7 linked regions of the Homo sapiens genome follow. The protein of the gene in region 1 purifies or fractionates together with the protein of each later gene. This does not show direct contact. Each region holds a gene or a part of one and is shown in the gene's direction. Other genes may lie near its edges.

Region 1 (2,768 bases):
CAGTTACCTAGAGGAGGAATGCATTTTGTCTCCGGAGCGTATTACCTTTTCCAAACCCCTCAGGGAAACTGGCAAGTGAAGAACAGGTGGGAGGTCTCTCAGTCGACTCCTTTTTTTTTGGAGATAGAGTCTTGCTCTGTCGCCCAGGCTAGAGTGCCGTGGTATGATCTCAGCTCACTGCAACCTCCGCCTGCCAGCTTCAAGCAATTATCTTGCCTCAGCCTCCCGAGTAGCTGGGATTACAGGCACCTGCCACCATGCCTGGCTAATGTTTGTACTTTTAGTAGAGAGTCAGGATGGTCTCGATCTCCTGACCTCATGATCCACCCACCCTGGCCTCCCAAAGTGCTTGGATTACAGGCGTGAGCACCGCGCGCGGCCTCTCAGTCGACTCTTGAGAGGAAATCATAAAGGCCAGTGTGCATGGCGAGCTCGTTTTGCACCAAGCACTGTGCTAAACATTTTATGTACTTTATCTCATTGACTCATCCTAGCAACCCTTCATGGTAACTACTGTTATTCCCTCCACTGGCAGGCGAGGAAGTTGAGGCCTGAGAGAGGTTAGTTTAGTTTGGTGGTTAAGAGCACATGCTCTGTGGTCATGCTGGCTGGCCCTGAATCCTGGCTCCACCACTTAGTACCTTGTGACTTTGGGAAAGGTGCTTCCCCTCTAAGCTAAGTCTCAGTTTCTCCACCTGTAAAGAGAGCATGATACACCCAGGCACAGTGGTCCATGCCTTCTAATCCCAACACTTTGGGAAGCTGAGATGGGAAGATCCTTTGAGGCCAGCAGTTCAAAACTAGGCTGGGAAACATACTGTCTTTACAAAAAAATGTTTAAAAATTAGCCAGGCATAGTGCCACGCACTTACCGTCCCAGCCACTCAGGAGGCTGAGGTGGGATCGCCTGAGCCCAGTAGTTTGAGGCTACAGTAAGCTGTGATGTCACCACTGCACTCCAGCCTGCATGACAGAGCAAGACCCTGTCTCTTTAAAAAAATAAAATTAAATTTAAAAAAAGGTGTGGTAACAGTACTGATCACAGGCATCCTCTGGTAAGCATTTCCTAAATGCTTCCCTTCCCTTTCCTGAGGCATACTTCTAGTATGCAGGGCAGCCAAATACAAGCTCAGGTGTGTCCAGCCTCAGAATCTCAAACCTCAGCTGCTTTGATCCACTGCTGCTTTTGCTCAAGAAAGAAGCAAAGCTTTGAAATGGAATGTTTCTGAGTCACAATTTGATCCATAAAAACATGAGCTAGACATACAGAGGGTCCTGGCTAAGTCTGACAAGTGCTGGCATACTTTGGATTCTGTTAGGCACCTTCCTGCCTGCTGCCTTGCTCCCTCCGGCTCTGGCCCCGGGGGTCTGTGGCTGCCAGTAGTTGCTGGAGTTAGGGGCTCCAGCAAGCTCATGTGGGCTCATTTCTGCTCTTAGCCAACCCTTTCTTCTTTCCCCATTCTTCCTCTTTATGCCCCCTGCCCCTGCAGTGAGAAAAAACGCAAGCCTGCATGGACCGATCGCATCCTGTGGAGGCTGAAGCGGCAGCCCTGTGCTGGCCCCGACACTCCCATACCGCCGGCGTCACACTTCTCCTTGTCTCTGAGGGGCTACAGCAGCCACATGACGTACGGCATCAGCGACCACAAGCCTGTCTCCGGCACGTTCGACTTGGAGGTGAACTTCTGGGCTGCCTGATACTTGCCAGAGGAATAGCTATGCTGGCCACATCCCCAAGCCCTCCATCCCTGGATTCGAATGTCAGCCAGTCCCCCAGGGGAGACCTGTGGAGGCCATGATTGCCTTTCCTGCCAGGTCGGATATCCCAGCTCCTCTTAGGAGCCGTTGATGGCTCTGTCTGTCAAAACCGTGTTCAAACCCTTTGTGAAAAGGTTTCCATTTCCTTTGGGTATTCTCCCTTGGGGCTAATGAGTTCCATTAGGCTTATTACCCAATGTGAGAAGTAGGACTTCTTTTATTTGTCCTAAATCTATCTGGATCAAGTTGCAACGGGCGCTCCCTCCATCCCTGCGTCCTTGTATCTTGCTATCTGAATGACCAAGGTGGTGTTGGCCTCCTTCAGGCTGCTGCCCCTCAGCCTTCACGTTTTCATACAGGTTTACTGGCGTGTGTGTGTGTGTGTTAGGGTCTCGTTCTGCCGCCCAGGCTGGAGTGCAGTGGCGGTATCATAGCTCACTGAAGCCTCCACCTCCTGGGCTCAAGTGATTGATCCTTCCACCTCAGCCTCCCTAGTAGCGGGACTACAGGTGCACGCCACCACGCCTGGCTGTTATGTATTTTTTGTAGACACAGGGTTTCACTATGTTGCCCAGGCTAGTCTCGAACTCCTGGGCTCAAGTGATCCTCCCAAACTGTTGGGATTATGGGTGTGAGCCACCGTGCCTGGCCCCCGCTGGTATCTGCGTTGTGTTCTTGCACGTTCACAGCTGTTCTCACCAGAGCATCCCCCCATGTGGGGCTTTGGGTCAGATAAGGCGGGAGGCCTGAGAGCAGCTGCCTGGCCGCCTCCTTAAGCCTCTCAGCCGTGCCTCTGCTCTCCGCCATTCCTACCCCCCAGCGCTGGGCCCCATGGGATTCCGACAGGGCCAGCCACCCGCCGACTGGTGTTCGGCCCTCTTTCCTGATGGCCAGCCAAGGTCCGTTGGAGCAGCCCAGTGGAGTTCCATGCCCACCCCCTCTGGGTGCCCCACCTTCCCCACTATGTTGGAAGGGCACAGTGAGGAACACTTGGCCTCAGAGGAGGGAAT
Region 2 (3,500 bases), on another chromosome or scaffold:
ATGAGAAGCCACCAAAGAATTTCATGCAAGGGCATGAGGTAATCTGATTTAAATTTTAAAACGATCACTGTAGCTCCTATGTGGTGAATCGATTATAAGGGAGCAATAGCAAGAGGCATGAGGAGACTGATGTAGGGGTTTGTTGCAGTGGTCCAGGTTCAAAATAGCGTGGCCTGGACTAGTGATCTCAAAAAAATGAATGGGCAAACCTACTCTTTCATAAGTGCAAGGCTGCCTGTAAGGAAGAAAATTCTTATGCTTTTAAGCAATGAAAGCGTCAGATGTAGCTTAACACACCTGTGTGTTGCTCAGCCCTTAGAGCTGTGTCACTGCCATTTCTCCACAGCTAGCATTGGGCCATCTTAACGTGAATCATTCACTGCCCCTGTTTCAGGAACCTTAGCCTCTTTTGTGGCCTCAGATAAGAAAGAGATAAGAAACACATAATAGAATAGTGTTCTGTAGATCAGAAGGGACCTTTGCATCCTGAGACTGAGGTACATGAAGGCCGCCCCTGAGCATATAGCGAATTGCTAATATTTATTGGGGGTGTACTGAGAGTGTTTGTTTATGTTCATTAACTCATTTATGGTCTCAATCCTCACAATTCCTGGCACCTGTCTTCATTTCACAGAGAAGCTTGAGACTTACAAGAGGTTAAGTTACTTGCCTGTAGTTAAACATTAACCTCACAGCCCCATATCTGCAATTCCAAACACCCAGAGCTCTGGAAACCACAATTTGATTGATCCCTTTTCTTTTAAGATTGGTGCAGATTTATTTGGCAGAAAAACCTGATGAAGCTTTTAAAAATCATTTTTGTTCGGCTGGGCACGGTGACTCATGCCTTTAATCCCGGCACTGTGGGAGGCTGAGGCAGGCGGATCACAAGGTCAGGAGTTCAAGACCAGCCTGGCCAATATGGTGAAATCCTGTCTTTACTAAAAATACAAAAATTAGCCGGGTGTGGTGGCATGCGCCTGTAGTTCCAGCTACTCAGGAGGCTGAGGCAGGAGAATCGCTTGAACCCGGTAGGCGGAGTTTGCAGTGAGTCGAGATTGTGCCACTACACTCCAGCCTGGGCAACAGAGCAAGACTCCGTCTCAAAAAAAAAAATTTTTTGTTCATCTCATTTGGTGTGAATATTCATAGATATTGCCACAGAAATATTAATGTGTTTAATTATGGATTACTGCCTTGGACCCTACTGGAAGTGGTCTGTAATATTCAGTATATTCAGTTTTGCCTTTTTAAAATGTAAAGACTTCTGAATTTTAAAGCTGGAACCTGACCCTAAGGATGCCAGATAAAGGATTATGGAGCTGAAGTAAGTGCCAAAGGTTGGGTTCAGACCCCAGGCTTTCTGGCTTCAACACTGTGTACATAACTTTTATACTAGAGAGAGCATAGGTGAGGTTAGGCTCTGCTCTTTGTCCTTTGAGTGACACAAGTACACTGACTCTGAGCCATCGCCAGACAGAGACATTTCTTGCAAGTTATAGTCAAATAGCTTTGATCGTTCCCCAAATTCTTGCAGCTCTCATACTGCCCCGCAATGTGGATGTAGCCCACTGCATGGTACTCCACCCGGAAATCCTCCATGCTCCAGTGCCTCTTCTTACTTTTACGCCAGACTTCCTGTTCCTGAGTAGATCAGTGTCAGATGGGTGTTAGGAAGAAAGTAATCTAGCTGAAGTAATTTAGGCTCATCAAGGTGTGAACAAACTTCTTAATATTCATACAGCCGTCTGCATTTTTAAAAGAGCATTTGTTTACCGGGCTACTCTCTCTCTAATTGGAGACAGGTTGGTTGGGCACTTCAACTAATAGATTAAAAAAGAAAGAAAATCTAAGCCGCGTAAGAGAAAATACCTAAATCACCCCATAGACGGGTTTGCTGAATCTGGTGGACTGCCTGCCTTCATCTCTCACTTTTCTTCCAAACTGTTCTTTCTTTTTCTAGCTTTTCTTCCTTCTTCCCTGCCCAGCATATAAGTTCTCAGAATCTCCATACATATCCCTCTCCCTTGTGTGGGATAGTAAGGCTAGATTAGTTGCGATAGGTTAGGCTGTGATTTGATAACAAATAGTCCCTACATCCCAGTGGTTTAAAAGACAAAAATTAATTTTTCTCATGTTACATGGCCATCGGGATTTGCAGAGGCAGGTCTCCTGTGCCACACCATCCTCACCTAGGGACCCGGGATGACGGGGTGCCACCATCTGGAGGGTGGTTAGTTGCTTTAATGAAGGAAAGGGGAGTTAATGAAGGGCTCTTAAGGGGTCCACGTGGAAGTAGGCACACACCCCCTCTGCTCGTGTTTCTTTGGCCAGGGAAAGCCACCTAGGCATTCCTAGCATCAAGTAGACGGGGAAGCGTGAGTCGCCTGTGTGCCTGGAAGTAGTGGAGGACCCAGTATTGCCTATGGGCAGTAATGCCTCCTACTGCAGAGAATATGGGGGGAAAGAAAACCGAGGAGACCACTGATGGTTTCTAAGTCAGGTCATGTATTATGAATAATGTACTGAAGTGATTCTCAAGCTATGAATAAAAATAAAAATTAGACAGTGGTGGGTCATGCTAATAGGGACTCAGCAGCTATGAAATAATGAGGCAAGAATTTTTTTTTCCCAAAAGTTTGTGTTTGATACATGCACAGATCTAGACCTCAGACCCTTTCTCAAAAAGCCATCAATAGCTACAAAACTAAGATGTTTCTGGTGAACTGTTTAAAGAGGGATGAGGACACCGAGGTATCTGTGTCTGTGCCAGAGCTACCACCAAGGGACTCTCTCCTCCCCTTGGTCTAGTCGGCCCCTCAGCCCTGGTGTCCCCACAGCCAAGGTGCAGGGGATTAGGTGTTCTCCGTGGCTGCTGATGGGGACAGCAGGAACTAGGAGAGGCCCGACATTGCTCCTTTCTTTTGTAGGCCGGTCTCTTTCCAGGGCCCAGGGGTTTCAGCCTCATAGTAGCTATCATACAGTTGGCCAAGAATTTTATTACTGTGCTGAAATCCTCTTTAAATTGCTCCATTCTCATGCTAATCTCTAGTAACAGATCGGCCAAAAACATCTATAACATCTCCAGTATTGCTAGAAATCTGACGTGCCTCGCGCCACTGCACTCCAGCCTGGCGACAGAGTGAGACCCCGTCTCAAAAAAAGAAAAAGAAATGTTCAACTTAGAGACTTGATTTAGCCATTACTTCAGTGGAGCGGGTAGGAGGGAAGAGAGGAATTACTTAAATGTTTAGAAAAGGCGGTAAATATCTTAGGGGATCTTGGAGATCTGGGAACGGTATACAGGGTTTTGTTTGTTTTTATAGGGGTTAGATATGGTCATAGTAAATAGATTAGATGTGCATGGCAGTGGAAAAGATATCGTAACTTCAAAGTAAATGTGGAATTTTTTCCAGTCATAGAATAGGAATAAGACTCTTTCTGGTGTGGATAAAATGGAAGTGGCGCACACAGAGTCCTCCGTGCTATGCCTGTGGTCT
Region 3 (3,500 bases), on another chromosome or scaffold:
ATTGAGTTCTGTGATTTGTTCCCAATTTAAATTTAAAACGATAGTTGGGGCCGGGCGCGGTGGCTCACGCCTGTAATCCCAGCACTTTGGGAGGCCGAGGCGGGTGGATCACGAGGTCAGGAGATCGAGACCATCCTGGCTAACACGGTGAAACCCCGTCTCTACTAAAAATACAAAAAATTAGCCGGGCGAGGTGGCGGGCGCCTGTAGTCCCGGCTACTCGGGAGGCTGAGGCAGGAGAATGGCGTGAACCCCAGGGGGCGGAGCCTGCAGTGAGCCGAGATTGCGCCACTGCACTCCAGCGTGGGCGACAGAGCGAGACTCCGTCTCAAAAAAAAAAAAAAACGATAGTTGGAATGTAAGTTATAACAAACTCCTGAATTGGCAGTTTTGTTTTATTGAAATGCAGTTGAGTGTTTTTTTCACGTGCCTATATTTGAAGAGTCTACAGCTGCCTGCTGTCTTGTGGCTAAATATAATGTCATATAAATGGAACATTTTCCCCTACTTGTGGCTTACTCACCATACTACTTTCCACATTTTTGTTGCTCAGTTTCTAAGATGATTGGCAATTATACTTTTTTAAAAATCTGTGGTACAAAAAGTGTAAAATGTAAAAATGTTTCTTGCTATACTCCTCATGAAGTCTCCCTTGCATTTGCGAATGTGGGTGAAGTGCCCATGCTTTGGGGTCGTCCACTTAGGACTGTGGCAATATTTTAGAGAACTGTTTCTTTCCTGATGCTTTGGAGCACTGTGAAGTCAGTGGAGGAAGAAGCATTAGTCAGAAAATTGAAGAAAATTAAGGAAAAGTAGATGTTCATAATGAGAAAAAAAAAACACCCTTGTATTAGGGATTTATTCCAAAAAGTAGTTTTGAGACCTAAGTGTATCTGTCTGTGTACCAAATTGCACTGCGTACAGTGTTTTGGGATGCGGAATGAGGCTTCTGAAACACTGGAAACCCCTCTCCCTTCAAGGGGTTAGCATTCAGGTTGGCATGCCATTTAGCGGAAGAGTGAACTTCATAGGTGGGGAGGCAAGATTTTCATCAGTTCTGATGCTGGTACTTAATCATGTTGACTTTACCATAGAATGTAGAACTTTCCATTTCCCAAGCATTTGAGTCATTAAGGTTTTTCTCTGAATTACAGAAGTGAACAACATGGACAGTTCACCCTAAAAGGGTTATTGGTGGTTGACATTGGTACAGCAAGGGCAGAGCTGGGAAAAGTTAACCAAGCACACATTTGCTTATGTTGGTGCCTTCCAACTCTTGGAAAAAAAAAAAAAAATGCTGGGTTAAACCATATGAAATTGCCAATATTCGATTATCTTTGATCTAAAATAAATGGAAATTTCATGTGGCCCCAATTAATAGGTTAGTGGTTTGGGTTTTAAATGTACACATTCAAATATAAGATAATTATGCTACTTTTTTAGATCAGGCTAAATGAAGATACAATCCAAGATGTTGTTCAGGCAGCTGACCTGCTGCTACTGACGGACCTTAAAACCCTGTGCTGTGAGTTTTTGGAAGGCTGCATTGCTGCTGAGAACTGTATTGGTATCCGTGACTTTGCACTACATTACTGCCTCCATCACGTTCATTACCTTGCCACAGAATACCTGGAGACTCATTTCCGAGACGTCAGCAGCACGGAAGAATTCTTAGAGCTGAGTCCTCAAAAGCTTAAAGAAGTGATTTCTCTTGAGAAGTTAAACGTTGGCAATGAAAGATATGTCTTTGAAGCAGTAATTCGATGGATAGCACATGATACAGAAATAAGAAAGGTACCTGTCATTTATAACATGGTCAAATTTGCCTTTTTATTTCTTTTTAATTCAAATTTTAGTTGTTTTATTTTTCTTCTTCATCATGAAAGACTTACGATGCAGCAATCTAAAAGATACCTGTAAAACATGTTCCCCTATATCATGAAAGCAGTTGGTTTTTCAGACCAGTCTGCAAAAGCCCATGCCACACAATATATCAGTGAAAATATTAGCCCTTGTAAGGAGCGTAATATCCTTTGTATGTTGTTTTTAATGGGAAAATGCATTTCAAGCTTAAGCTGGAGATTATAGAAACGCAGTATCCCCACCCTTGCTCTCAGCATCCTGACCTACTATATCACTAGGCTAACCTCTGCCAGGCCTCAGGTGCCTGCAGCAGGCAGGGGGGTGGCACGTGGATCGATGGCAGGGGTGGAGGGGCATGGGCCTGAGGAGCTTCAGGTGTGATTGACACCACGCAGGAGAAAGCAGGCAGGCTCTGGAGTTTGTGTGGCAGTGCAGTTTCAAGAGGGAAGGTTCTGGGAGTGAAGGTCTTAAAGAATATCAGCCTCTAGATCCAAATTGTGAATACCTTGGAGGAAGGAGCAAAATCACAGGACTTGAGGGTTTTGAGGGGGCAGAGAGTCTCAGTCTGTCTCCCAGGCTGAAGGGCAGTAGCCAGAGTGGCACGATCATAGCTCACTGCAGTCCCAACCTTCCTGGCTGAAGTGATCTTCCCACCTCAGCCTCCGAGTAGCTAGGACCACAGGCGTGTGCCACCATGCCTAGCTAATTGTTTGATTTTTGTAGAGACAGGGTCTCGCTGTGCTGCCCAGGCTGGTCTCAAACTCCTGTGCTCAAGCAATCCTCCCACTCTAGCTTCCCAAAGTGCTGGGATTACAAGTGTGAACCACCATGCCCAGCCAGGACTTCATTTTTAAGTCTGATTATTATAAATAAGACACTAGCTCCAATTACTGTTTTCAAAATAAGAAATATATTAGGTGTTAGAGAGTGGATCTCACAATGTATAATTTTACTGTTAATTGTTCTTGTAAGTTAAAACTGGACTGTTAAATTTTGATGATTATCTTATAATTTTTTGAATTCTGTAAGCCCATAAGTATGCATGTTTAGAAACCATATTTGTAGTATTGGTTTTAATTGGGACAGGTAAGGACAGGTAGTGTTCTGCTTTCCATGTTAGTTGGGGAAATTGGTAAAGGAGATAGAAAAATGAGAAAAATTTCCTATGTGCTCCCACTCACCAAGACCACAGTGGGACATGCTGCTCCTTGCCAGCTTCCGTCCTGCCCTCTTCTTGCCTTAAAGCAAGGGAGATGCTTAAGGTTGGCTGGTTGCTGGGAAAACGAGGCAGTTCTTTGTCCTTTGGTCAGTTTAAACTTCATGCTGTAAAGACAGTTGATTTTTAAAACTCACAGTTTTATTTTACATTTATAAAATACTTTCGTCAGTTCAAATTTAGTGATTGAGCAGTAAAAGTGTAAATTCATATTAGTCGTCTTAGATATTTTTGAACAGTAATTACTGCAAAAATGATTATATAGTACTCAGGTTTTTTTTTAAACTTTGGCTTTTGTATATTTTTCTTGTATTATTAATGTTGATGTCTAAGTTTACCATATTGTATTGAGCTATTACTGTATATAATATTTGTATAAACATGATTTAACTCATGGCACATCCAAATGTGTGAAATAAAG
Region 4 (3,500 bases), on another chromosome or scaffold:
ACTTCAAATTTACTAGACAGTGAAATATAAATGAGATGGTATGAAATCACTCTGAAAGTATTAGGGTTGGATATATTATGTAAGTTTCTATAATTAGAAAGCATTAAGTCCCAAATCGTACCAATAGTTTTAATCATATCTAAATGGATACTCACATACTAAATGTGATTAAATATAAAATGCATAACGAAATGTCACATCCTTTCCTGATAGAATACTAATAAGGCATAGTATTTCATGTGCAGGAAGATACAGGAAAACACACAAGTAAGAGTTTGTTTTGCATATATAAATTGTTATGCCTTTGAGATTCTTTTCTTCCTGATGGTAGGATTTGGAAACCATTGGACTAGATGATGTCTAAATTTCCTTTCAGTTCTAAAAATTACTAAATATCTTGCCCTTATAGCTTAGATACTGTCTCCAATAGGTTAAAGGCTCAGAGATGATAACACTTTCTGTTTAAAAGTTTTTAGAAACTTACTTTTGAATATAATGAAAATTAACTTTGAGGCATGCACTGTTTTGAAATCTAAATGCCTCTAAATCTACTTCAGACAACCCTTGCAGTTCTTGTTTCAAGGGAGGCAGAACCGTGTCTGTTATGCAGAGATCTTATATTAAACTTGCTGGGAAAATTGCCAGTGTGAATAAAGAAGTGAATATTCCTGCCAGGTAGGTAGGTATTTTATGATCTTTCTGTTGGCTGAAAGTGGTTGACTAATAAAGAGACAATGAAACACACTTAACTATTTGTATTTTTATGTTATCTTTCGAGAAAGTTTGTTTTCTATATATGAGTTAGTTTCTGCAGTCCCTTATGCATTTTTTAAGACCTGGAAATCCGTCCATTATAGTCGAAGAAGGCAACCCCAAGTGTTAACTGAATTAAATCCTAGCAAGTTCCTTGATTGTTATTCCTTAGAAACATTGTGTTTAAAGGTCTCAAGTTGTAAACATTCATGGTACTACTTTGTTATCTGTTAGGTCCATTTCTTTTCCTTTTTTTCTTTTAGATCTTTAGAATTTCAAACATGTACAAAAATAGATTAAGTAATGAATAAACCCCTGTGTATTCATCATCTAGTTTCAGCTACACCCTTGCTACTTATTAATTTAAAAATAACCTAAAAATTACATTGCAAACTAGAATTTTCTAGGACCTGAAATGTAGTCAGTAGGGGTTAGTTTATATGAGTAAAAGATAATATTTGGTTCACATGTAATCATGTTGAAATTACTTGAAAAATAAAGCTCTTGGCCGGACGCGGTGGCTCACTCCTGTAATCCCAGCACTTTGGGAGGCTGCGGTGGGCGGATCACGAGGTCAGGAGATCGAGACCATCCTGGCTAACACGGTGAAACCCCATCTCTACCAAAAATACAAAAAATCAGCCAGGGGTGGTCGCCGGCACCTGTAGTCCCAGCTACTCGGGGCTGAGGCAGGAGAATGGCGTGAACCCGGGAGCCGAGAACATGCCACTGCACTCCAGCCTGGGTGACAGGGCCAGACTCCGTCTCAAAAAAAAAAAGCTCTTTAGAAAAAGGCTTTCAAACTTTTTTGTCTGTGACCCAGATAGAGAAGTAGTTTTTGACTAATAGAAATTTATAACAAAATTACACAAATATGTAATATCTTGTGAAACATTACCTATTATTAATCTGTGTGAGGTAGTTAAGAGAACCATAGTGACCTTCTAAATTGAATTCACAATTCATGGGCCGTGAAACTCAGTTTGAAAAACAGCATTTTCAGGTATGGAGTAGTTTGGGGCTTTTGTTTATTTTTTACATGCCATGTTAGTCTGGAATAATTATGATTTTTGTTAACACAAGGATTTTCACTAGACATTTATCAGTAATATCAGCATATACTGTTATTAGTCATTATGAGTAAAGAAAATAAAACATTTTGGATTTATACATTAGCCATTATATATAGCGATTTTTTTTCCTTTTAGAACTTTAGAAAAAGGGGAAGCCACAGTAATTTGAATATAATCAAGACATAACTTTTCCAGTATATTCAGTTGACCTTCCTTTTAAATTAGACCTTGTGTTCCTTATTCCTGAGCCTTTGAGTTTGCAGGGCTGGGAGTACTAATGTTTATTCTAAGCCAAATGCTTTACTTGGTTGCTGTAGTCTGAGGCACATTTCTGTTGAGTACAGATTGACTTGAATACTGGCCAAGGGAAGAGAGAGAGAGGGTAAGCAGAACCATCACTAAAGAATCATCTGCCGTTCATGTTTAAGATCCTAGAGTAGTGGGATTATTTCCTAGTTTTTAGACACTGCTTCCTGGAGGAAAAAAAGGCAACAAGATGTCCTCCTTTGTTGGCAACTATCTGTGAAAAACTTCTAAATTCATAGATTGAAGGAATGTGTTAAATTTAACTTGGGATTTTTTTGATTATACGAGTTTAGCAGGTTTGGGAATCATTGCCGAACAACTGGAAAAAAATAGCACAAGGAGCTCCAGCATTGAAATTATATTCATTAATGCTGAATCTCAAATCGTGCATCAAGGGAGATGAAATAAATGGCCTTAATGCAAACCAGGAAACTGCTACCTGGAAAAAAGCAAGTATAAAGAGGTTTCAAATAGCTTGCAGTGAACTGTCATTGAATTACCCTTACACAAATAACATAGTGATCACGTATCAAAAGTATGGTGCTAACCTAACAGCATTACTGTTTTCTACTAGGATTGAACTCCAAATAAGAATACTTTCTAACCACATTTTGGAAGAGACATAGAATCTATGTTGATGGTAGCTTAAGATTTAGGAGAAAAGCCTGAAGGAGCTAAACTTAGGAACAGGGAGCACTAGGGGGATGTGATTATCTATTAATACTTTCAAGGTAGCAGTGTAAATGAAGTAAGGGAATTAGGCAGTCTCCAAAGATGGATGGGCTGTATCAAAGAGCAATGGCCTAGAGCACAGGGAAGAAAGCATAGGTTTAGTATTAAGATGATTTTAATGAAACTAGCGGAAGAATAGAGTTATTTGCACTCATCGTCAGAACCATTATAAGTAGGACAAAGAGCTGGTTGAGAGGGTACTCAAAAACAGAAATGATCTCTTTCTTACATAGTACTGTGCTTGTTTAGAAGCTCAATGAGAGAAAAATATGGAAATGAATATGAAATGAAATGGACTTTTCAAAAGTTAGTGTGTTTTTCTGTTGTTTGTTTTGTTTTGAAACAGGGTCTCACTCTGTTGCCTAGGCTGGAATGCAGTGGCGTGATCATTACTCACTGCAGCATCAACCTTCCAGGCTCAGGTGATCCTCCTGCCTCAGCTTTCCAAGTAGCTGGGACCACAGGCGCATACCTCCATGCCTGGCTAATTTTTGAATTTTTTGTGGAGATGAGGTCTCCCTATGTTGCCCAGGCTGGTCTCAAACTCCTGGACTAAAGTGATCCTCCTGCCTGTGCCTCCCAAAGTGCTGGGATTACAGGCATGAGCCACAGCCCCCCTGCCAGCCAGAAGTTTTT
Region 5 (3,500 bases), on another chromosome or scaffold:
AAGTAGCTGCAGAAACTCCAGCCTTCTTTCCAGCTTCGTGGTCAGCTGGAAGTCCTAACAGAAGTCTCGTATTGAACCAGCCACTGTGGCCAGGGAGAAGTAATCCTCTGATAGTTGAGGTTCTTTGCTCTCCTCTGGAGCAGATAGTGGTGTCTCCTCCCCACAAAGCTCATGTTCTGCTGGAAGAAATGGAGATGGCGCCCTGGAAGGCTATTGTAGGGCCATTAAGAGAAGCAGGGGGAACGGACGTGGGCAGCCAGAGTAGCCCATATCCACCACATCATACAGGGAGGTTTCTTTTTGATCCCTAAGTAAAGAATGATAACTGGAAAATAAGATCCATGAAAGAGAAGAATACTCCCATTATATTAAATGAGCGGGGATAGTTCCTGAGACACATTTTTATTAAAGTGCATTTTCAGGATTTTCCTTCATATGTATAAAGCACACCTTCTGTTGCTGTTAATGAAAGCTAATAACATTAAAAATATACTTAAGTGTCAACTTGCAACAGCACAGCCTTTATTTTTTTAAGTACATGGTGAGTAAGCAACATTAAATAATTAGTTCTTGGACTGGTGTTTTTTCTTCCAGTGTGAATCTGGCAACATTGGCTCTGGGTTATGTCTCCTCATCAGTGCTGGTATGTTGTTGATTTACTGAATATTGGTGTTTTTAAGAATGAATTTAAAGTCACTCAGTCCCTCATGGCTCTTCACAGTTTTTATGAATGGAGGAGGGTGTTAGGTTTGTGTATTCTGATAATCTAACAAAGAGTTGTTCTTGTTTTGGTAGGCTGCAGCCAAATGTGATAGCATGACGATGACTCCTGGCCCGTGGCTGGGTTTGCCAGCTGTTCCTGCGGTGACACTGTATAAACACGATGACCCTGCCTTGGTAAGTTTCCACTCACTGGGGAGGGAGTGGGTGTGGCTAATACACATTATTGGCTTTGGGGGCAAAATCCAGAAAAATACAGGAAAAAGTGAAAAATACCCATAATTTCACTTCTATTTCATTTTTTTAAAGAGAAACTTGTGAGACTTTTTTTAATGACATTTTATGATTGTATAATATTCTGTCACAATTTAATTATTCTCCATTTATGAACTTATAGGATGTTTTCAGAGTTTTGTTACTGAAATAATGAAGCAGTGAACGTCTTTCTGTGTTTCTAATTATTTCCTTAGAATAGGTTCCCAGATGTGGAATGACTGAGTGGGGGAGTTTTAAGCCTCCTGATCCACATTGCCCAATAGGTTTTAACTTTTTTTTTTTTTTTTTGATATGGAGTCTCGCTCTGTCACCCAGGCTGGAGTGCAATGGTGAGATGATCTTGGCTCACTGCAACCTCCACCTCCTGGGTTCAAGTGATTCTCTTGCCTCAGCCTCCCAAGTAGCTGGGATTACAGGCATGCGCCACCACGCCCGGCTTATTTTGTATTTTTAGTAGAGGCAGTGTTTCACCAAGTTGGTCATGTTGAACTCGCGATCTCAGGTGATCTGCCTGCCTCGGCCTCCCAAAGTGCTGGGATTACAGGCATGAGCCATCACACCTGGCCACATTTTTTTTTTTTTTTAATCGTAGTTGTGGGCCAGGCATGGTGGCTCATGCCTGTAATCCCAGCACTTTGGAAGGTTGAGGCAGGCAGATCGCTTGAGCCTAGGAGTTTGAGACCAGCCTGGGCAACATGGTGAAACCTCATCTCTATAAGAAAAAACAACAACAAAGAATTAGCTGGGCATGGTGGTGTGAGCCTGTAGTCCCAGCTACTCATGAGGCTAATGTGGGAGGGCTGATTGAGCCCTGGAGATCAAGGCTGCAGTGAGCTATGATCACACCACTGCACTGCAGCCTGGGCGACAGAATGAAAACGAAACCTGTCACAAAAAATAATAATAATAATGTGGTTCTTGATAATATAGGTCAGCGTGCAAAATAAGGTTTAAGTGATTTCTGCTAAAACACTGCTGTCTTGCTCAGCTAATAATGGCCAGGTGTTTGAGGATGCTCAGAGCTACCTTCGAAGTGGGGAGTCTCCTAGGTTCTGGGATGTGACCCATCTGGGTTTTCCACTGGCTTTTCCTGGCTTTGCCACTCCTGAGCTGTGAACCCTTGGACAAACCGAGGTCTCTGAGTGAAGTTACCTAGAATACTTAGCTCACAGAGTTGTTGGAAGATCACATGGATAATGCAAGCCTAGTGACTAGTATGGCATCTAGCCCACACTAAGTGGGTAGCAAATGGTAGCTGGTTAGTTCTATTATGAGATTGCAATGGCTTTGATTAATAAACCTCTTTTGGCTTTTTTAGACTTTAGTTGCTGGTCTTACATCAAATAAGCCCACAGACAAACTCCGTGCCCTGCCTCTGTGGTTATCTTTACAATACTTGGGACTTGATGGGTTTGTGGAGAGGATCAAGCATGCCTGTCAACTGGTGAGTAGAAGCCTGACATTTAAATGAAAGACTCCTTGGCCACAGCAGAGACAGAAAAACATCTCATTTCTGTACCTTCCATCCAGAGTGGTGTTGTCTGGATTGACTGTCTCGTGAGCCAGAGACTAATCGCCCTGCATGTAAATATTTCTTGTTCAAAGTTCTGGGAGAAAGTGCTGGGTTGTCTGTCCCAGCATTTGTGTGCAGATGAAATCAGATGAAAAGGAACACCACTGTCAGCATGGGATCAGAAAAGAAGTCACAGATGACTTCCAAGGAGTGGAGAAGGGTGCAAAAGGTGGAGGGGTGGGGAGCGAGTGTTCCCCTTGATTGACTGACTACGGTGAGGGAATAGGAAGGTTACAAGGTGGTTATGGAGGGCATGGATATTTTATAAACCAGCTGGCTTGGGTTTCCAAATTGCAGGGCTCTTGGGGACAATTCTAATTCTCTCTCCATTTTAGGTGTGTTCTAATTGTGAAAAATATATAATTATGCTATATTTCAGTGTTTTAGAGCATTCAGGCTTCTATAACAAAATACCTTAGAGTGGGTAATTTATAAACAACAGACATTTATTGCTTACAGTTCTGGACGTGAGAAGTCTCAGATCAAGGTGCCAGGAGATTCCATGTCGGGCCCGTTCCTCATAGATAGTGCCTTGCATGTGGCCTCACATGGCAGAAGGGGTGAGCACAGTCCCTTGAGCCTCTTTCAGAAGGTCACTAGTCCTGTTTGTGAGGGTTCCATCCTCATGCCCTAATGACCTCCCAAAGGCCTCAACTCATTTGCGATTAGGTTTCCACATAGGAATTTTGTGGGGACATAAATATTCAGATCATAGCATTTAGAAAGCAAAAAAACAGGCTGGGCATGGTGGCTCACGCCTGTAATTCCAGCACTTTGGGAGGCTGAAGCGGGTGGATCACAAGGTCATGAGATCAAGACCATCCTGGCTAACACGGTGAAACCCCGTCTCTACTAAAAATACAAAAAATTAGCTGGGCGTGGTGGCGGGCGCCTGTAGTCCCAGCTGCTCAGGAGGCTGAGGCCGGAGAAT
Region 6 (3,404 bases), on another chromosome or scaffold:
CGAGGCCAGAAGGAATTTAATTGAGTGGCTGAACAAGTACATGTAGCAAGAATCAAGGGCAAGCCTTCCTAGAATAGCTTTCATCCCAAAATTTGCTTGGAAATAGTTAGATCATTTGATTTAATTTTCACTTTTATAAAATAAGTGTAGGAATCCTAAAATTGATTATTTCATTTGAAACACAAATTCAGTAGGACGTAATGCATGAAATAATTTAATTTTTGACATGTACATCGAATCATAATTTAAAAACAAGGTCTGACCAGGTGTAGTGCCTCATGCCTGTAATTCCAGCACTTTGGGAGGCCAAAGTGGGTGGATCACCTGAGGTCAGGAGTTTGAGACCAGCCTGGCCAACATGGTGAGACCCCATCTCTACAAAAAATACAAAAATTAGCCTGGTGTGGTGGTGCACGCCTGTAGTCCCAGCTACTTGGGAGGCTGAGGCACAAGAATCAATAGAACCCAGGAGGTGGAGACTGCAGTGAGCCAAGATTGTGCCACTACTGTACTCTAGCCTGGGCAGCAGAGTGAGACCCTGTCTCAAAAATAAATAAGTAAATAAATAAATAAATAAAATAAAAACCAGGTCAGTACCTGGAGAATTTGAATGATAGAGAATGATAGAGTAATACCCTAATTATTAGTTAAAACCTACAGGCCGGGTGCGGTGGCTCACGCCTGTAATCCCAGCACTTTGGGAGGCCGAGGTGGGTGGATCACTTGAGGTCAGGAGTTCAAGACCAGCCTGGCCAACATGGTGAAACCCCATCTCTACTAAAAATATAAAAATCAGCCGGGCATGGTGGCATGTGCCTGTAATCCCAGCTACTCAGGAGTCTGAGGAGGAGAATCACTTGAACCTGGAGGCAGAGGTTGCAGTGAGTCGAGGTTGCGCTACTGCACTCCAGCCTGGACAACAGAGGGAGACTCTGTCTCAAAAAAAAAAAAAAACCTACAGCTGTTCAAGGACCAGCTGACAGGTCAAGTGTGGCCTTTTCTGGTCTTTGAACACATCATAGAAAGTGACAAATGCTGCAAAGCCATGAAGAACATGAACTATAAACGGGTAGACTAACTGCCCAGCTTAGACACTTATCTATGCCACAAAACAGCTGAATTTGTCACATTTATATATTGCAATATGGGAAGTATTGAGATCAAAACAGGATTCCATTGACCTAATTATATTAAGCTAATAAACTAATTTTTTGAATTTTTGAATTTGCAGCTTTTTTAAAAAGATAGCAGAGAACGGTGGGCTAGAGTTGTCACCCAGCTGTTGTCTCCTAAGCAGTGGATTTCCAAGCACTGGCATTTTTGGGTCCCAGGGCCTGAGGCTACCTCAGAAATATCTCCTGTGTTTCTGGTGGTGGCGTAAAGGGGAGAGCCGGTGAGAAACTCTGCACCTGCACCTACGGGGTGCGTACATGTGACTTTGGGCAAGTGACTTGATGTTGTAGTTTTTTTCCTAATTTTGTCTTGACGTCCTTCTCAGGAGAGAGTGGCTGTAAACTCTAGCCCTGCCCTGACGGGGATCCTGGGGATGTGGTCGTGGGTGTTTCCCATGTGCCTTTCATGGGATCCTTCTTTGACCTCACAGACGGCCTGATTCCTGAGTGTCCAACCTGTGGCCAGGTGTCCCTCTCGCAGGAAGCTTGTTTATCCTGGCACATGACCTTGTGGCTCTCATCTGACCTGTGTCCAGTTTATTCCTACTGAGACAGCCACTCTCCCGGAGAGCCCTGACCGGGAAAGAAGTTAGGATGGGGTAGAGGAGGCAACTCATCAGAACCCAAGAAATGACAGAAGCAGTTTATTGCTTACAGATCCAGAGAACAGAGGGCAGCACGCTTCACAGGGCCAGCAAAAAGGGGGAGCCATTCAGGACACATGGGCTCAACCAGAAGGTGGAGAACGAGAGAGAGAGGGAGCTATGAGCCAAAGCCTTCACTGGGGCCCAGGGTGTCATCTATGCAGGTTTCCCCTGGAGGTTCTAACTGGGGGGTTTAGAGCAAGCAGGCATGAGCCCCGGGGACTCACGCTGTGACTGAGAGGGGTCGGTGTGGGTAGGATATCGGCATGGTCCATGTGGGTGTGGGGGTCAGTGGGACAAGTCAAGCAGGTGGTATCCAGCTGTCCATGGGAAGGTGGTCCCAGGAGGCGGTTTTGTAAGGCAGATGTCTGGATCGACCACCTTGGGGAACAGTGAGAAGTTGTATAACTGGAAACTGTGTTACTAATCCCTGCTTCTAGTATGAGAAAGTCCAACTTACATTCAAATAGATGCTCAGGAAACATAAAATTCAAAGAATTCCCAAACTTGAGCTTCCTGAGCCTCAGTTTTTGCATCTGTCAAATGGGTATGGGGAGACCCTTTGCCTAATGTTGAGAGAATCCAAGCCTGAGCAGGGCTGGTCTACTGTGGACACTTAGTTGTGGACCCCAACAGGCCAAAGCCCTTGCCTGCTGAGGGCTGCTCCCAGGAGGCCTCACACATTCATCCGGCCTCCCAGGAAACCCCTGAGATGTGCTGGGCTTTTGCCGTGGAACGGTGTCGGTGAGCATGTGGCCAGTAGCCAGAGTCTTCAACATAGGTGGGAGGTCTGAAATTCGTGCGAGAATGAACCAAGGGTGTGGCTGTATCCTTCATGGTGAGCTTGGGGCCTGGGCAGCCTTCCCTCTGCTGAGTCCTTTGGTCAAATGTCATGGTGTTCTGAACCAGCACTGCAGATAGAAGTATAATGTAAGTCACACACGTACTTCTTTAAAAAGATATGTTCTTCAGTGACTATTAGACAAACAGATAAATGAAGGTAAAGGGAAAAAATGGCAACTTTAGCTTTTTTCCCCATGTATGTAATTTTAAATTTTCTTATAGCCCCATTAAAAAAAGGAAAGAGACACAAGTGAAATTAATTTTAATAATGCATTTTAGCCCAATTTATCACAAATGTTCCATCAGTGTGTAATCAATGTAACGAATCATGAGTGAGATATTTTGTATTTTTTTTTTTTTGTTCCTCTATCTTTGACATCTGGTGTGTATTTTCTGCTTACACATATCTCCATTTGGATGCTAACTTTTCATCAGAAGTACTTGATTTGGCCAGGCACAGTGGCTCATGCCTGTAATCCCAGCACTTTGGGAGTCTGAGGTGGACTGATCATTTGAGGTCAGAAGTTCAAGATCAGCCTGGCCAACATGGTGAAACCCCATCTCCACTAAAAATTCAAAAATTAGCTAGGCATGGTGGTGGGCACCTGTAATCCCAGCTACTTGGGAAGCTGAGGCAGGAGAATCACTTAAACCCGGAGGTGGAGGTTGCAGTGAGCTGAGATGGTGCCATTTTACTCCAGCCTGGGCCACAGAGCAAGACCATCTCAAAAAAAAAAAAAACAAA
Region 7 (3,500 bases), on another chromosome or scaffold:
GCTTGAACCCAGGAGGCAGAGGCTGCAGTGAGCCGAGATCAAGGCATTGCAGTGCAGCCTGGGTAACAGAGCAAGACTTTGTCTAAACAAAAACAAAAACAAAAAATTCTTTTTCTCAGAATAGCTACATTCATCTCATCATTATATAAAAGACTTACTAAAAATTAAAGCCTTGGATTTGACTCTAGGTAAAGTGCATGGAGAATAAACATGAATCATTATTTGTTTTAGTATACTATTAGTATAATAATTGAAACAGACTACTCATATTCCTGCTTATGTGACATACTTGTTTTTGTTTTGTTTTGTTTTTTTGAGACAGCTTCTTGCTCTGTCACCCAGGCTGGAGTGTAGTGGCATGATCATGGCTCACTGCAACCTCTACCTCCTGGGCTTAAGCAGTCCTCCCATTTCAGCCCCTCAAGTATGTGGGACTACAGGCAAGTGCCCTCATGTCCGGCTAATTTTTTAAATTTTTTGTAGAGACGAGATTTCGCTGTGTGACCTAGGCTGATCTTGGTCTCCTTGGGCTCAAGTGATCCTCCTACCTCAGCATCCCAAAGTGCTGGGGTTATAGGCATGAGCCACCATGCCAGGCCTGACATACTTGTTTAATTAAGAGAAGTAGGCAACAAAATAACTTATTAATATAATACATAGATGATTGAAGGGAATTTGTTTTGTTGACTGCTCTATTTTTATACTGCCTAATAAAAGCATCTGGGATCTTTGTTTAATAACTTATTTTTTCTTTTTCAGAGCTATCCATTTTTTATTTTGCCCTTAAAAAAATTCCTTTTTTTTTTTTTTTTTTTTTGCCACAAGCATTTAACTGTGAGGTATTTAGGAAAACCTAGTTTTTTTTTTCTTCTAGAAACTTTTTGTCTCTGGGTGCTTTCCAGTTACTTTGTGCCATTTAGAGCAATGCCAGGCATTCATTTAATATTTTCATAAACATGGCTTTTTTTTCATATTTAAACATTTGAACTTTATTTTGATGAGTGAAGGGTTAAAAGAGATACACTACCTTTCTCCTTATTTAAGACCTCGCCTCTCTCACCCAGAAAATAATCATTAATACTGTATTTAAAATTCTGAACATCCTGTTTGAGGCAAAATATTTGCAGAGTACTGCTTCTTTTGTATGTTTTTCCAGAGATACTCTGTATATGCAAGCATGATTATTGTCTCTTATCTGCATAGGAATAGATATTAAAAGTATTATTACTGTAATATATTCATCATATTCTTAACTTTATGTTTAGACCCCTCGGAGACAGAAAAAACTCTTTTGCCGCTACCATGATGGAAACCGTAATCCTAAATTTATTCTGGCTCCAGCTAAACAGGAGGATGAATGGGACAAGCCTCGTATTATTCGCTTCCATGATATTATTTCTGATGCAGAAATTGAAATCGTCAAAGACCTAGCAAAACCAAGGGTAAATAATGTTTTCTTTCTTTCTCCTCAATTTACTGTACCTTTGTATCAATTTTTCTTTGTAAAAAAATAGGATAATTGATATACGAATAATGCCACAGATTTTTTAAAGATATTTTGCCTCAGCATAATGGAGTTACTAATGATGCTGTGTTTATGCCAGTTTTTCCATTTGTTATCAACACAAGTAATGTACCCTTAACTGGGTTTTAAGCACTGAATTATGAAAATTATTGTGAGATTTTTATTCACCATTAACAAATTTGTGTTTCACTGTCTTCCTGATAAACTTTTCTCTGTATTTTGGAGTCTTTTAATCTCAGAGGCTACTCAAAGCCCAGCTTTTTCACTTCTGTATTTTTACTGAAAGAATACCGTGGAAGTATTTTTATTCCCTTTTAGGCACATTGTTACTATTATAAAAAGATATAATTGGGCACAAGTATTATGTTAATTTGAAATGGTGATAGTTTTCTGACTTTAACCCACAGAATTTATCTTAAAAAGAAAAAGAATCTAACGTAAACCCAATCTATAAGCTTAGTGTTGAGCATAAAAACTCTTTAGTGAGAATGTGGAAAAGACTACCCTTTATGCTCTTGCCTTTTCCCCCATCAGCTTGTTCTTAAAACATATTTGGTCTTCTTGATAGTAAAATACAAGCTGCCATCACTTTCATAAAGAGATTGTTGAATAAATTCTAGGCATGCTTTGCTGTCTTACACAGGAGTTGGCAGATTTTTTCCATAAAGGTCAATATTAGATATTTTTTAGGCTTTGGAGGCCATATGATCTCTGTCATGACTATTTAGTTCTGCCATTATAGTGCAAAAGCAGCCAAAGAAAATATGTAAATGAAAGAGTGTGGCTATATTACAGTAAAATTTTATTTCCAGTGGCAGGTAGCAGGCTGAATTTGGTCTGTGGCCATAGTTTGTTGACCCTTATTATATCAAAGGTTTGAATTATCTGGATATCTATACTACAAAATGAAGTTAGAATTTCTTTTAGAGTTTTTCTGCTTCTCCAAATTGGTGGTTTTTTTTTTTTTTGGCCAAAGATTACATTATAAATGCAAAAGACTGGTCTAACATTAATATATATTATTGGTGCCATCCAAGGTAATTAATTCATTTCAACTTGGAGATCAAGTTATATTCTGGAGATTCCTCAATTTGGATTGTTTTTGATCAATAAATTTAATGGCAATAAAATTTCATGCTCTCACAACCTCAGAATCATCGTTCCATTAAAAAAAATTGAAATTATTATCTAGGCGGTCACCTCTTTCTTGCTGTTTTTAACATTTATGAGCTCTTTTCCTCTGCCTTTGTTCTCAGTCCAAGATTATTTCACTGTATATGTTAATGAGAGTGGCTATCTTGAAGGGACAAAAGATTGACCTTAAAATGAATTTTAAACATTAACCTGTGCAAACAGTTCCATCACTAAAAAAAATTAAAGTCAAAGGTTTTGGAATGGATCATTAATTGCAAATAGGCATTCTTCTTTTTTTCCCCTTCTCTCCCCACCCCCAGATGGCTATTTTAACTGTAAATTAGACTTCAAATTTTAGATATGTCTCTTTTTCTTACTGTCATGTCCTTTCACCATTGAAAGAAATTTAATTTCCAATCTCTTTTGTTTGTATGTCCTCCATCTATGCAAAACAAAAAATTGAAGAAAAAAAAAAAACCCCAAAAACCTAAAAAACTAACTGGCTTTCAAGGCTCAGCACAAGGTGACTGGAAGTGTATGGAGTTATTTTCTCTTTTTAGCCTCCTTTGTAAAAACCCTGGAATTCTGACTGGTTGGGTAAATGTGATTCAGTTTTTTGTTTTGTAATGCAACTATTTTGATGGTTGGCTTCACAGCTGAGGCGAGCCACCATTTCAAACCCAATAACAGGAGACTTGGAGACGGTACATTACAGAATTAGCAAAAGGTAAGAGATGTGTATGCTGCATATTTTGCCCTCTAATGAGTGTTTTATACATCTTACAGGAATTATTCATTTAAGGAAAGTGGGTCATTTTCAGTCACCAGCTCAAGTCACCAC

The links.
Region 2: the proteins of INPP5K (region 1) and FSAF1 purify together in Homo sapiens (affinity purification with mass spectrometry; one large-scale study listed by BioGRID and IntAct). This does not show direct contact.
Region 3: the proteins of INPP5K (region 1) and GAN purify together in Homo sapiens (affinity purification with mass spectrometry; one large-scale study listed by BioGRID and IntAct). This does not show direct contact.
Region 4: the proteins of INPP5K (region 1) and NPTN purify together in Homo sapiens (co-immunoprecipitation; one large-scale study listed by IntAct). This does not show direct contact.
Region 5: the proteins of INPP5K (region 1) and PDXDC1 purify together in Homo sapiens (co-immunoprecipitation; one large-scale study listed by IntAct). This does not show direct contact.
Region 6: the proteins of INPP5K (region 1) and CMBL purify together in Homo sapiens (co-immunoprecipitation; one large-scale study listed by IntAct). This does not show direct contact.
Region 7: the proteins of INPP5K (region 1) and P4HA1 purify together in Homo sapiens (affinity purification with mass spectrometry; one large-scale study listed by BioGRID and IntAct). This does not show direct contact.

Annotation. Positions count from the first base shown.
Region 1 is NC_000017.11:1,496,845-1,499,612, reverse strand, and holds part of INPP5K (inositol polyphosphate 5-phosphatase K), read left to right. Parts: intron 1-1,490; coding exon 1,491-1,677; intron 1,678-2,768. UniProt on the Homo sapiens protein: Inositol 5-phosphatase which acts on inositol 1,4,5-trisphosphate, inositol 1,3,4,5-tetrakisphosphate, phosphatidylinositol 4,5-bisphosphate and phosphatidylinositol 3,4,5-trisphosphate.
Region 2 is NC_000001.11:231,231,176-231,234,675, reverse strand, and holds part of FSAF1 (40S small subunit processome assembly factor 1), read left to right. Parts: intron 1-3,500.
Region 3 is NC_000016.10:81,352,962-81,356,461, forward strand, and holds part of GAN (gigaxonin), read left to right. Parts: intron 1-1,443; coding exon 1,444-1,794; intron 1,795-3,500. UniProt on the Homo sapiens protein: Probable cytoskeletal component that directly or indirectly plays an important role in neurofilament architecture.
Region 4 is NC_000015.10:73,623,390-73,626,889, reverse strand, and holds part of NPTN (neuroplastin isoform b precursor), read left to right. Parts: intron 1-3,500. UniProt on the Homo sapiens protein: Probable homophilic and heterophilic cell adhesion molecule involved in long term potentiation at hippocampal excitatory synapses through activation of p38MAPK. May also regulate neurite outgrowth by activating the FGFR1 signaling pathway.
Region 5 is NC_000016.10:15,016,526-15,020,025, forward strand, and holds part of PDXDC1 (pyridoxal-dependent decarboxylase domain-containing protein 1), read left to right. Parts: intron 1-594; coding exon 595-643; intron 644-795; coding exon 796-897; intron 898-2,314; coding exon 2,315-2,440; intron 2,441-3,500.
Region 6 is NC_000005.10:10,277,095-10,280,498, reverse strand, and holds the end of CMBL (carboxymethylenebutenolidase homolog), read left to right. Parts: coding exon 1-46; 3' UTR 47-2,904; downstream 2,905-3,404. UniProt on the Homo sapiens protein: Cysteine hydrolase. Can convert the prodrug olmesartan medoxomil into its pharmacologically active metabolite olmerstatan, an angiotensin receptor blocker, in liver and intestine. May also activate beta-lactam antibiotics faropenem medoxomil and lenampicillin.
Region 7 is NC_000010.11:73,044,867-73,048,366, reverse strand, and holds part of P4HA1 (prolyl 4-hydroxylase subunit alpha-1 isoform 2 precursor), read left to right. Parts: intron 1-1,265; coding exon 1,266-1,442; intron 1,443-3,315; coding exon 3,316-3,386; intron 3,387-3,500. UniProt on the Homo sapiens protein: Catalyzes the post-translational formation of 4-hydroxyproline in -Xaa-Pro-Gly- sequences in collagens and other proteins.